Linked DNA regions of Homo sapiens. The protein of the gene in region 1 interacts with the protein of each later gene in a pairwise test. Each region holds a gene or a part of one and is shown in the gene's direction. Other genes may lie near its edges.

Region 1 (7,287 bases):
AAGGAAGGAAGGAAGGGAGAAAAAGAAGAAGGAAGGAAAGAAGGCAGGTATTCAGACACTGTGGAGGCCATCACTCAATCAGATGATCTCTCTTCTACTTTATTTCTTAACACGTGTTTGCACATTCTTTACCAAAGATAGAATTTATAATTATGCAATTATGTTGCCATAGGCATATTTCAAACAAATGAGCCCACAAATACCCAGAAAATAATTCAAAAGACCCATAGTTTTAGCTCCTTTTAGCTAAAAGTGCAGTTCTACCTGTGAGTTCCTACTTTTTGTGTCTGCACAAAGCTGGCCACCTTCTTCACACTCTCCAGGACAAATAGGGAAATATTCTAAGAACATAAGTTGGAGACGTAAGAGATCCCTTGTTGCGCACAAAAAATCTTTCCTCCTCATTTACCTTTGAGCAAGAGATTATTTTTAAATTAAAGTGAAAGCCCTTACAGTCCCAACAAAGAGCCATAGCAGTAAGACCGGTGCACAAGAAAAAAGATTTGGTTCCATAAACCTTGACTTTCTACATTTATATTCACAAAATAATTTTATACGCTCAGGGCATTTTTACATTTTTCACAAGGATCCCCTTATGTCTCAAGAGGGAAAAAAATCTGCCATTCAGTGCTTAGCTCAACTAAAACCTATTTACTCCTTTTAATAGCCGCGTCTGCTGCTGATTTTTTTGTATCTGTACAAATTTTTTTTCTGTGCTAGGCACAAAGCCGAGCATTTTTCAAAAGAGCGGATTAGAACATTTGCAAGCACTAGACAAAGAGCGAATCCCGTGCAAAAGGACACCGTAGTTTATCCAATTTTCGACTTAGTGCCATTCAACTGGTCATTTATGCAATGTCATCCGACCAAACAACATGTTTTACTTATGAGGGGAAAAAGTTTGTTAAGTGAAGAAACCAAGATTCGTTTCTTCTAAGAAAATAAACATTGTAACCGTGCGCCAGAGAGTGGGAGGGAAAGTGATTCACTGCTTTGGAGAGCTTTGAGACCATTTATCATCTACATTTCAGATATTTTGAAAGCTTTTCTTCAGCCTATCTCTTTTTCCATATACGAATGTCCTTTTTCTCTTTTATTACTCATACTGAAGCAAAATTACTCATACTAAGGGACACAGTCCAAGATACTAGAAGAAATATAGTACTGTGTGTGATATACGTTTATACCTTTACATAGATATATCCATGTATGTATATATCATAATATATATCCATCTTTATCTATTTAATCTATGAATGCTATGTAGCAAGTTTGTAAATCTGACAAGTTATTTTCTTCCACTGTTCTTGCTCCAAGTTGGCAGAATGAAAAAGAAAGAGTCATAGCTACTTTTAAAACAAGAAATGGGGAGGGAGTGTGTGGGAGAAACCCGTCTCTCTCCTTTTATTTCTTCCTTTTTAAAACATTCATCAGCATATGCCTCATTTCAAATGCAACAAATGTAAATATACTTTTCCCTGCACAGAATTTTAAGTGAAAGTCCAATGGTTTGGAGGGCGGTCTAAGTCTGCCTAACAGATGCAAACAGTCTTGTGGCTTCAGTTCCATCTTTGAGTCCCCTAAAAAGATTTGCTATGGCCAACAAAGGAAACTGTCACACCTTTTCCCATCACCGCTTTAATTTATGCTCAGTCTCCAAGTTTTTTTTTTTTCATATTGATTTGATAATCACTTTAAGGCAGAACATTTAAAATAAGAAAGAGCTTGTGAGTAGGTTGAAAAGGGGGGTCTTACAGGCCTGCCTCAATATGGTGAAAATGGGGAGGCGAAAGGGAGCCAGGGTTGTAAAGGTTGTTTTGTAAAGTGGGTTTTTATTATGCACCGACTCTCTCCGCATTTACTTAACTCTTCACGGGCTGTTGGGTAGGTTAACACCCTTCAAGGCCTCTTTCATGTCCAATACCTCGTTTGTTTGTAAAGGAAAATGAGCCTTTAACACATTTTGATTTGGGAAAAAAGAAAACGACAGACAGGGAGAAATTTTTATTTTTCCTAATCAAAAATCAGCAAACTCTTTCCATCTTTCCAGCTCTAGGGATTCCTCAATCCATTAGGACTTTGAAGGCCTACAGTGAGTGAACCTGAAGATTTTTCCTTCATACGGCCCATTTTGGGTAGGATTACAGGATGTTCCTACATTTGGGGTAAAACAGAACCTCCATAAGACATCTTGTATCCTGCATATGAAGTAGCTCCTCTGTGTCCTCAAGAAACCCACAGTCCCAGACTTGACACTCTAGGTGTAATTTGCTCTACTCAGAAAGTGCTGAGTGTACACTGTCTGTATATACGCTGTGTGCCTTGATGGGGACTCAAAGGGCTTCTCATTCTCTTATGCCAAGATGAAAGACTCCCAGGCACTTTGAAGTGTAATATTGTATGGTGATGTAAAATGCATACCTTAAGATTTATACAACTTTTAGATTGTGGTTTTTCTTGCAATTTTTTAAAAAATTGTGTTTGCTGGCAAGCTTGCTTCAGCTCAATGCTTGCTTTCAAATGTCTACTGAAACAGAGTTCAGGGATGGGCTAGTCTAAAAGACTTTACCTACGTGGTCATGCATATGAGTATCCATTTAAGTAATTTTATTTCTGTTTCTTTTATTAAGGGCTCTGTGGAGGCCCAGTGTGGGCTTGTTCTCAATGGCCAAGGTGGAGTGATAAGAAGAGGTAAGTAACAAGTAACAACATGTTAACCCTAGACATTCTTCTCCTATCTCTTACTTTGTTTAGAAGATCTGGTTGTGCTCAGATTCCTTTTCTGATGATTAAGAAAACAATTATGCTTAGTCAATTATTCTAGTCCAACACTGGCATATCCACATTAAAAAGCCTCCTTTCTTTCATCAAGGTTTGAACCCAGGCTATGCCCATAAGACTTGTGATAGGAGATATTTGTTGCTCCTCACAGAACAGTGACAGAATCAAAGTTAGAGGCAGAAGGAAAGACAAAAGAAAAAGACAGAGAGAAAGAAAGAAAGAAAGAAAGAAAGAAAGAAAGAAAGAAAGAAAGAAAGAAAGAAGTTTCTCACACCCTCTTCCCCCAGCACTAATACCACATCCTCCAGCAGAATTTCTGGTCTTTTTAAGCCCTAAATGTGCTAGCCACAGCCTGGGTGTTTGAGATGATGGTGTTAGCTTCAGGCTTTTAGGGATTCTGTGAAAGGCTAGATCATTGAGGCTTCAGGGGAGGCTAATGAAACACCAATATTGTAGCTGCCCTTATTTTTCTAAGTGTCCAGGACATTTCTTTCTTTAAGGGAAGGTGGGAGGAGGAGGTGGTGTTAACTGTACTGGATAAAGCTTTCTTGTTCCCATCTGTTGAGGGAAACATCTGAATCCAGAGTTACCCATGGAATTGGAAGGTGGGGGAAGGCAAGAGGAGAGGAGAGAGCTGTTGCTTTCAGCTCGGGCACTAAAGGGGGCTGCATCTCAGATGTTCCATTTTGACAAAAGGTTTTGAACTATGACATTCTCAGAGCCTTAAGGCAGTGCAGATTTTGCTAGCTTCCCCTACTTAACTGTACCCAAAGCCTCTGAAGTTTATTTTTCTAGCAAGCTGAGTAACCCGAGCAGCACACAAGGCAAGAGGGACCAGCTGTTATCCTAACTTCATACGAATTAATAAGATGTGGTCTATTCACCAAGACTAATTCCTGCTTCAGGGCCACAGTTGTCTGCAGTAACAGAACACTAAAAACTGAGTCTCTTCTGATGGGACCAAATAAGTGTCCTTCAGCCCTTCTCCATCCCTTTGAAAGCTTCTTGAAAGATTTGCTTTTCCAGATAGAGAGATGTGCTGGTAGAAATCAGTTGCTTCTTTCATGTTTAAACTGCAGATTTTACATCCCAATGTCCAATGTAAACTCCATTTAAACTGAGGAGGAAAGAAAACAAAGGGTGCTTTCCTTTTGGAACTTGGTTATTGTTTTAGTGGATGCTGGTAGTTTACATTAAATTTAAAAGAGCTGCTCAACACTTCTTGTTTCACCCTATGGAGATTAAAACACACACACACACACACACACACACACACACACACACACACACACACACACATATACGTGGTATAACTCCACAAAGATTTTTTAAATGAGGAATATTAAGCTTGCCAGCCACGCTGGTACTCAGACCTATTGAAATGGAATAAAATAGGCCCAAGACTGATGAATATTGAATGCACTGTGTTGGAGGAGGCAAAAAAGATTTACACAGTGAACAGGGGACCAGGTGAGATGTGCTGATCAGGGGTCTGTTGGGACGGGTAAAAATAAGGTGAGGCAAGAACACTCAGGGCGCTTAGAGACTTCGGTGGTGCTGAAGGACAGCGCCACTAATTAGGGACGGGAGCCCGCTTCTCCCACAGCCGGCCTCTTGCTACTGCAATTTTGCATTCGCTTTCACACTTGACCAAGATCACCTTCTGAAATGCTTGGAAACTGCATCTGAGCGTAAGATACCTGACAGAGGGTGGAATTACTTGAGGCCGAGGAGGGAGTTAGAGAGGAAGAGGCTTTGGAATCAATTGAATTTCTGGGGAGAGATTTAAGGGACACCCTCTCACCCCCTCACTCAATTCCCAAGAAAGGCCAAAGCTCTTAGGTATCTCCAAAATGTTAGCTACCTTATCAGAGCCACAGAAATTATCTTCCTTAGGTGATGCTTTATTATTCCTGTAGAATTCGGTCCCTATTCGTTTCAACTAAAAATCATCGTCGAATCTGCTACTTGAAACCAAATATTGATGTCATATGAGACTAGTGAAGCTCCAGAGAGAAAGGGAATGTAATTTGGGGTTTACGTCTGTCTTGTTTGACTAAACCCCTCTTCATAGGAATTCAGATTTTAGCTGCTGAGTTTATTCCATTTCCACGTGTCTTAGAGAAAGGCCAGTTAACCTAGTTGAGCCTTGGAGAGGAGGGTGTGTGTCTATACGTGTCTGTTTATTCTGAAACAATCAATGTTCATGTCAATTTACAAGTGGATAGCAGGGAAGTGTATTCCCAAAAGAGGGCGTATATTTTGCTGCAGCCTGCCCAGCCCCTCATCTCAGAACTTCCTTTTACAAAACCCTAAAGAAGCCTATTTTCTCAATTGTCATGGTAGTACACAGGACCCCTAATATCAACAGCTCAGACTACTTGTGTTCACCAAAAATCAGGAAGACATTAACTCAAGTGCTGCTATACTGCTATACTTCATATAACCCGATACTGTCTAAAAGCTAAGAATGTCTGTTTCTTTTCCAGCTCATGCTTGACCCACCACATGAAACATGATTTATTGCAAAGCACAATTTTTCACCATTTTCTCTTTTCTGCTAAGTTCCCGGATTAATTTACATTTCTAATGGTTTCTAGAATGTACTATGGGAGGGAAAAAAATAGATTCCACTTCCAAAGACCCCAAATGATGTTCTTGAAGAAATATGGGTGACTATGTACTTTACATGAGTTAATCAGGGACATTGTCCTGGTTTGCAGTGGCGTGGAGGGCTTGGGCATTCTCAGTTGTTCTTCACATTTGGTGACTTCAACTTGTAAAGAACAAAATAGCGTCGCCCTGACTCATTTTGTTAAGTGGCAATTACATTATTTTAGCCTGTAATGAAGGCCCGATAGCCAAAGAATGCGTGAAAGAGGGGGCAGCAGCTAGGTAATTACCACCTAGATAAAATATTTGCCACTGCCTCGGAGGCGCAGCTCCCTGCGTGCTGACTCTCGGTTAATGGTGTACGCGATTTTGCCCGCAGCTCCGGCTCTCCAACCATCAGAACCAATAATCTTTACTTTACCCTGTGCTCGCGTATCGATAGCTTCTTTCGCCTCGGGCGTAGGCTTTGATATGTTAATATTACTGAGTAGCAAATTCTGCAGAGATCATATTAATGTTGTACGTACAGAGTGGAGCTTTGCCTTCGTTGAATATTCAGATATCGGGTTTCAAAAGGCATCTCTTGAAGAAATGAGGCTTCTATTTACAGGAGTCGTCTGTGTTTTTAATCATTAAAAAAAGAAAGAAAATCTCACTCTTTTTTTCCCCCCTGAATCTTCTGAGGCTCCCTTATGGCCGCCTCCCCTTTGCCAGACACCGGTCCCTTTCATTTCCTGCTCTGAGTATTTAATAATAAGTGAACAATGTTGATGACGATGGTGATGATGAAGCTCATAATAAATGGATCCATATTGGAATCGCAGGGTGGGGGTACAAGTGGGTAGTGGGCTGTGGACCTCAGAAGTGGGCTAGATGAGAAGACCTAGCTTTTCCTTACATGGGTGGAAAGTGACATTTTGGCCCTGGTCTGTTTTGTGAAATCGAGATGGCAACTAAAAAGGGGGGGGCGGGGGATGGGAGAGGAAAAAATGAAAAAAGTGAAGAGGGGAAGCGCCCTTGTTTCGCTTTGTGATCATTCTGCCTTGCAGCCCCAGGCTAATTTCAGAAGCTTAAACACTGCGGTAGCCTCTGGGCCACGCGAAGAGGGAGCGGACCCGGCCATGGGCAGGCAGGAGCGCTTTCCTGATTGCCCGTGGCTACACAAAATACAAACTACTTTGAATCAAAACATTTTGGAGGAATTAATATGATCTGAACTCTGCACGTTTTAAGAGAGTTTGAGTTTGTCAGAGCGCTTAGAGGTGACTGGCACGCCAAGGCAAAGGCATTTACGCCGCGGTACAAACATTGTCAGATCTGATTTAATTTCTTTAAAAAAAAAATTCCTTGAAATGGAACCTTAGCTTCAATTGCTCAGTCTGCCCATAACAGAGTAGAAGGACCTGATCGCTTTTCCCTTTAGCCGGCCTCAAGGCCGGCAGCAGGCTGCTTGGCAGGAGGAAGCGATTTCCTCTGCTTCTCTGGGTTTCAGGAAGGCCCAGAGCCTTGGAATCCGGGATGGAGAAAGCCGTGGATTCTTTCAGCAGCTCCTGAAGGAGTACAATTGGAGGAGCGTGGGAAGCCTTGCTCTTCTTCCTTTGTCAGTACTCTTCGGATTCCAGATGGATTACCTGGAATCACTACTCTCGCTAGCCAAAACTCATCTCTATGGTTCATCCATTATGGGTGAAGATAGAGCCAGAGATACACCTCAAGCCTCGCCTGCCTCCTTAGTCCCCAGTGCAGATTCTGCAGGTTTGAAATTCAATCTCCTTTATATGAAATCTAAAACTCTTGTACCAAAGCATCCAGAAGCATGATTTGTTGGAAATCTTTGTGGGCGTTGGGGGTTGTAGAGGGAAAGAGGTAGCTTTCCCACAGCCTACAGCCTTT
Region 2 (5,902 bases), on another chromosome or scaffold:
GCAGTGAGGCGAAATCGTGCCACTGCACTCCAGCCTGGGCGACAGAGCGAGACTCCGTCTCAAAACAAACAAACAAACAAACAAACAAACAAACACTACCGTCACTTGCCCCATTCCTCTTGCCTTGTTTGTAATATTTCAGATAATGAAAGCACTGTCAGCTTAAGTCTTATGAATGAGAACTTAGTTTAGTTGTTGTAAATTGGGAGTGACTTTTAGTGGTTATGGAGTTTCTTTTTGGGGTAAAGAAAATGTTCTGAAATTGGTTAGTGGTGATGGACTCTATAAATACACTAAAACCCACTGTATACTTTTTGTACACTTTTGGGTGAATTTTATCATATGTGAATTACATCTCAGTAAAGGTGCTATTCCAAAGATGGTTTGATGTGGTATTCTGTTCTGAGTTTTCTAGAAAGCAGAGTTTCAGGTGAAGGGCTCATGTACTATTGCTTTCTTCAGGAGAAGGAGCGAAGGGTAAGGGAAGTGAAGCAGGGAAGGTGGAGTGCTCAAATGAAGATGCCTCATCCAGTTGACCATAGCTAAGCAATTATGTGCTGGATTCCATGACACTATTCCCCAAGAAGCTGCCTAACCCTCTTAGGACTGTCTCAGGCAAGTCTGTCCATGGAGAAAAGGGGAGAATATATCCACACTTCCATTTCTTTTTGGTCGAAGTTTTGCTCCACAGGGCATTAACTGCCCTACACTTCAGGTTTTGCAAGCATGGGCCCTAGATAGGCTCCCCAGTCTCTATCCTAGCTATTAAAGGTGAAGTCCCCAGGTGGGGGATGACAGATATCTGGTGAGGGGACTGATGTAAAGCTCCATCATGTTGTACCAGCTTGAGGTGAGTTGGAACCTACACCAAGATGATTCCTATAGGGGCAGCTGCATAAGAGGTGGGAGAGGCTGGGAGGCTATGAGTGGGGTCTGATCCTTGCCTGATAAAAGTTCTCAAATTTCCAAGTGAATATGTCATGTAGGCTCCTTATTGCTTATTTTTTTCCTTGTAAATACTATGTGTCAATTCATTTTCTCTTTTCTTTAAAGAAAATACATGCATTCAAATAAATCAAATAAAATCTGGTGTTAGAACTAATCTCTCCCCCCACCAAATCAATTGGCATTGAGGGATTTTCTTTGTAAAACTAATATTTATGGCAACTTTTCCCTCAATTAGAGTACATAGTGATTAGGGGGAAATGGAGAAAAGAAAACAAAGAAAAGGAATTAAAGCTACATGCTAATCTACAACCAAAGGCTGACTAATATTACATGAATTGCACAAACAACTTATAAAACCTCTATATTTAAAATTGTTCAGGATTAGAATTATCAGGACCATTTTACATTATGATATGTAAAGTTCTAAAAAACTTTTTATGTCTGCCCTCATCTAATCTTTTGAAATATGTGTTAAAATCTGTTAAAATTATTTTAGCCCATGTAAGGAATAGAAATTCAGTGGAAGTCATTAATGTTGTTCGGTGACATTGTAGGCTTTCGCCCTCCAGGCACATAGTAGCATTGCTCTTCGTGACCTGTGAAGTTAGATGTGGCTGTGGAACTTACTTTAGGAAATGAGGAGAGTGTGGAAATGGTGTATAACACTTGAGGAGAGCCTTTAAAAGCTACCATGGCTTGCCCCATTCATTTTCCCCTGTTTGTCATATTTCAGATAATCAAAGCACTGTCAGCTTGAGTCTTTTGAGTGAAAATGATGTGTATCCAAGACAGTCACCAATGTGAGAGGAATTCATAGTGTGAGCAGGCAATACATTTCTGAACATGGAAATTTTGGATGTCTGTCTGTTATAGCAGCAAAAACTAGCCTTTGTTTTTTTGTTTTCTAGTTTTTAGCAGCAAAAGCTAGATCGATGTGTTCTTCAAAAAATAATGCAATGAATTATAGATTTGAGGCATGTAGAAGCTATATCCCTTTAAAGCCTTAATGACATATCAAAAGCAGGATAGTAAAGTAGTTAAGAGCATGGCTTGGAGGTAGATGGCATGGGTTTGGAGATTGATTCTGCTGACTATTAACCATGTGACCTTCAGTAATTCTCTTAAACCCTCTGGACTCGGTTTTCTTATAAAGAATCATAATACCCACATCATAAGATCATTATAAAAATTAAATGAATTAACACTTGTCAAATGCTTGGAATAGTGCATAGTAAGCCTTCTTACTATATATAGAGGTAAAATATATAATTAAGTAGTATGTGCAAATTCTTTAGAACAGAGTCTAGCACAGAGTAAGTCCTTAATGATATTTTTTGTTATTATCAATCTTAAAAATCATTGAATAGCAATCGAGTACTTGGCTGATAATTTTCTCTGGGTATGTCTAGTAAGAGATAGGAAAGTGAAAACAAGCTAAGGAGAAAATATAAGTTTTTCTTTTGATTATGGGTAACAAAACCAGCAGTCACATAGGTGGGTTTTACCTCTGAGGAGACACTTGAACACATTGCTGTTACCTTCCCTTTCTAATCAGGTGTGTCCTGAGACAAGAAGCAGAGAGCATCAAGAAATGGAAGAGGACAAACTAAAGCTTTTTCTTTAATTACCTCTATCATCCAGAGTTAAGGGAAATAAGTCACCAGCGACTGAAACCAAACACTCCTGCCAATGAGAGATAAGCATCTCTGGGCAATTTCACACAGCCCAGCAAAAGCTTTTTTGAATTCTCATGACAAACCAGCCCTGGAATTTATCAGGATGATTTATTCATCAGAATTACCTGAGATACCCATTACAAATAGAGATTTCCAGAATCTCAGGTGGTGGTGGGAGAGGAGAGCTCCTGGAATTCTGAATTTCAAGCGAATTCTTTAGAAGATTCTTCTACCTGCTTACATTTGAGAACCCTAAATCCAGTCCTGTGGTTTATACGGAGTAACTGAAATACCACTGCCACCTGGTGGCAGCATGTACAAATTACAGGTTCCAATGTCATTGTGTGATAGAATCAGTAGTGAAATTTTTCAAGTCACGCGTAATTCTTAGTCACCCCTGCCCTCTCCTAATCACAAACGTATTTTTGAGTTTTCTGGATTATCTGATACAGAGTTTATATAATTTAAACCCTGAGGACACAACCTCTTACCATTTTAATTCATTCTTTTTGTTAAACTGAATTTGAAATTATAACTTATTTTTCTTTAACTTTCTCTATATACTCTTATGACATTTAATTAATTTGTAGAATAAAAGAAATCATATCCACTTATAGAACATTCTTTAGGCAGCTCTCTGTCAGAGAAACTGAGAGAGATAGAATCTTAAAGAGAGAGGGATGTCTGAGAGGAATGATTAGTTTTGCATATTGGACTCTGTGATTGTCTGTTAAGATGGAAATAAAAAAAGGAATTGGTATTCAGGAAGTTTTTTCTTCTACTTTCAGAGAATTCTGACTTTGATTCACATATAAAAAGATGATGTCGTAAACCTTTGAATTGGAATAGACTTAGCTTTGCTGAGCTCAGATCCTTCCTGGTTTACGTTCTTCATGAGAATTGGTTATGTAAGGCAAAATAAGAGCAGAAGGAAGTGTTGCATCCTTAAATATAACTGGTATTTCATAATGGATCATGGCATTCAGGCTTGTTTTATAGGAGTCAGTAAGAAGCAAGTGTGGTATAACATGACTCTGAAATTGAGCATCATCCCACTCAGCGCCAGTGTGGCAACTCCAGAAAGACAGTTTGGCAATGTTCAAGATGATTTACAAGCAAACATGGTATGTTCTCCATGAAAAAATAAAATATGTATTAACAAACAGAATGCTCATAAATGAAATTGATGAAAATTACTTGCAGGTTATTCACAGCCAACTTATTATTTGGCACCATTGCAGCCTCTGTAAAAACACCTGGTTGGATAGATTTGTGTAGCAGTGCTTTTTAAAATAAAAAATACATTTTGAGTTAAAATTTGTATAACACAAACCAAGGCATTTTAAAGGTAACAATTCAGTGATATTTAGTACATTCCAAATGTTTTGCAACATTGTCTAGTTCCAAATGATTTTCTTCACTCCAAAAGGAAACTCTGTACCCATTAACTAGTTGGTATACAATTGTTTTAAAAGGGCACATGGGTGAATTTCAAGAGGTTATAGAATTTCAGTTTGATGTTTCAAAATAATGTTCAAAAGACCTCAATATATGGCTTTGTCTTGGCTTGAAGTGTTTGCATTCTTGCCAAAGCTTTTTTAGTTTAGCTATGTCAGTTGGGAAGAGTTTATAATCAGAGGATTTAAAGAGTCTCACATGATGCAATCAAGAACAGTAGTTAAACTATGGGACTCTGATGAAAAGAATTCGATTGCGTGTCAAGCATGGTCACTGGCTTTAAAATAGTACAGAGAAAAGCCAACAAAAATGTGGGCAATGAGTCTGTGCATTCCTTATAAGCATTTTATTAGAAAAGAATGAGATTACCTATGCAAATTAGTGGGAAGATGTTTAGACAGATGTGTTGTGCCCACCAGCTTGAGGTATAAAAAGCCCTGTACGGGAAGAGACCTTCATTAACACTTGGGTAACTTACCCTTCACAATCCATCTAAATCCTTCTCAATTGCTGCCACCATGACTCGTTACTTCTGCTGTGGAAGCTACTTCCCAGGATACCCTATCTATGGGACCAACTTCCATGGGACCTTCAGAGCCACCCCCTTGAACTGTGTTGTGCCTCTGGGCTCTCCCCTGAACTATGGCTGTGGATGCAATGGCTACAGCTCCCTGGGCTACAGCTTTGGTGGTAGCAACATCAACAACCTGGGCGGCTGCTATGGTGGTAGCTTCTATAGGCCATGGGGCTCTGGCTCTGGCTTTGGCTACAGCACCTACTGATGGACCAATGGCTCCAGTGACTACAGGACTCTCAATTAATTCTCTGCACAGAACAACCTGAAGAGCAATGACTGTCTTCCTACCTTCCCATGTGCTTGGGTGATACATCTTCCATCTTCTTGCTGACTTCTTGCTGTGGTCTTTGTCTTTGATGCTGTTGGACAAGTCACCCAGGACTCAGGTGCTGAACTGATACTCATCTACAGACAAAGGAAGCAAGATGCATTTTTTTGGTCATACTTGAATTTTAACAGTGAAAAAGTAGTTTGCCTCCCATGGTTGCTCTGCTCATGTATTATTAGCTTCTACATCAACATTAATGTATTACAAATTGGGTGTGGGTAGTAAGGGGATTTTCTGTCAGTCTCTTAATAAATCTATTTCCTTCAGCATAAATATTTTTGTCCTGGTTATTTATTTCACTTCTCTTTTATGCTCTTGAATTCATCAATCAGTTTAAACCCGTAATGGTTGACTTTAACCAAATTTTATTCTGATTTCAGACTATATAGCCAGGATAGGGTGATGCCTAACCATTTTTTATTTTTATATTGATATTTCAATTTAAAAAACTCCCTGGAAATGTCCCGTATTTAACCCAGATATACTGCAATTGTTGGCGTTTCTCAAAGCTGATTATAAAACAGGAATATTTCTTAGCTGTTGAATGCTAAAACATGTTTTCTTTTCTCTTTTCCTTAGTGACAAGATTCCATTTTGGTTCATTTCTCCTTTCCTACTGTTTATAGAACTCAGCTCTGGGGAGATTTGAACCCCTCATGTTGTTGGAAGAATTGGAACTAAATAGACTTAGTTATGAAACTCTATCTTTAAGAGTTCCTAAGATTTGATCAATAAAGGGAAGCCAACTACTAAAATCACATATTATTTTTTATCCTTTTTTGATAGATGGGTTTATTTTCTCCACTTTCTTCACCTCTGATTATACATATAACTAGTACTAAAAATGAAGTGTTTATTCTTTGAAATAATAGTTGCCATCAAAAGCACTTGAAATGGTATGTTGTCTACACTTAG

Evidence for each region.
Region 2: the proteins of TFAP2D (region 1) and KRTAP7-1 interact in binary tests that used the Homo sapiens proteins (3 or more experiments, as listed by UniProt).

The regions. Positions count from the first base shown.
Region 1 is NC_000006.12:50,716,460-50,723,746, forward strand, and holds part of TFAP2D (transcription factor AP-2-delta), read left to right. Parts: intron 1-2,630; coding exon 2,631-2,691; intron 2,692-7,287.
Region 2 is NC_000021.9:30,828,397-30,834,298, reverse strand, and holds KRTAP7-1 (keratin-associated protein 7-1), read left to right. Parts: upstream 1-4,539; 5' UTR 4,540-4,600; coding exon 4,601-4,864; 3' UTR 4,865-5,260; downstream 5,261-5,902. UniProt on the Homo sapiens protein: In the hair cortex, hair keratin intermediate filaments are embedded in an interfilamentous matrix, consisting of hair keratin-associated proteins (KRTAP), which are essential for the formation of a rigid and resistant hair shaft through their extensive disulfide bond cross-linking with abundant cysteine residues of hair keratins.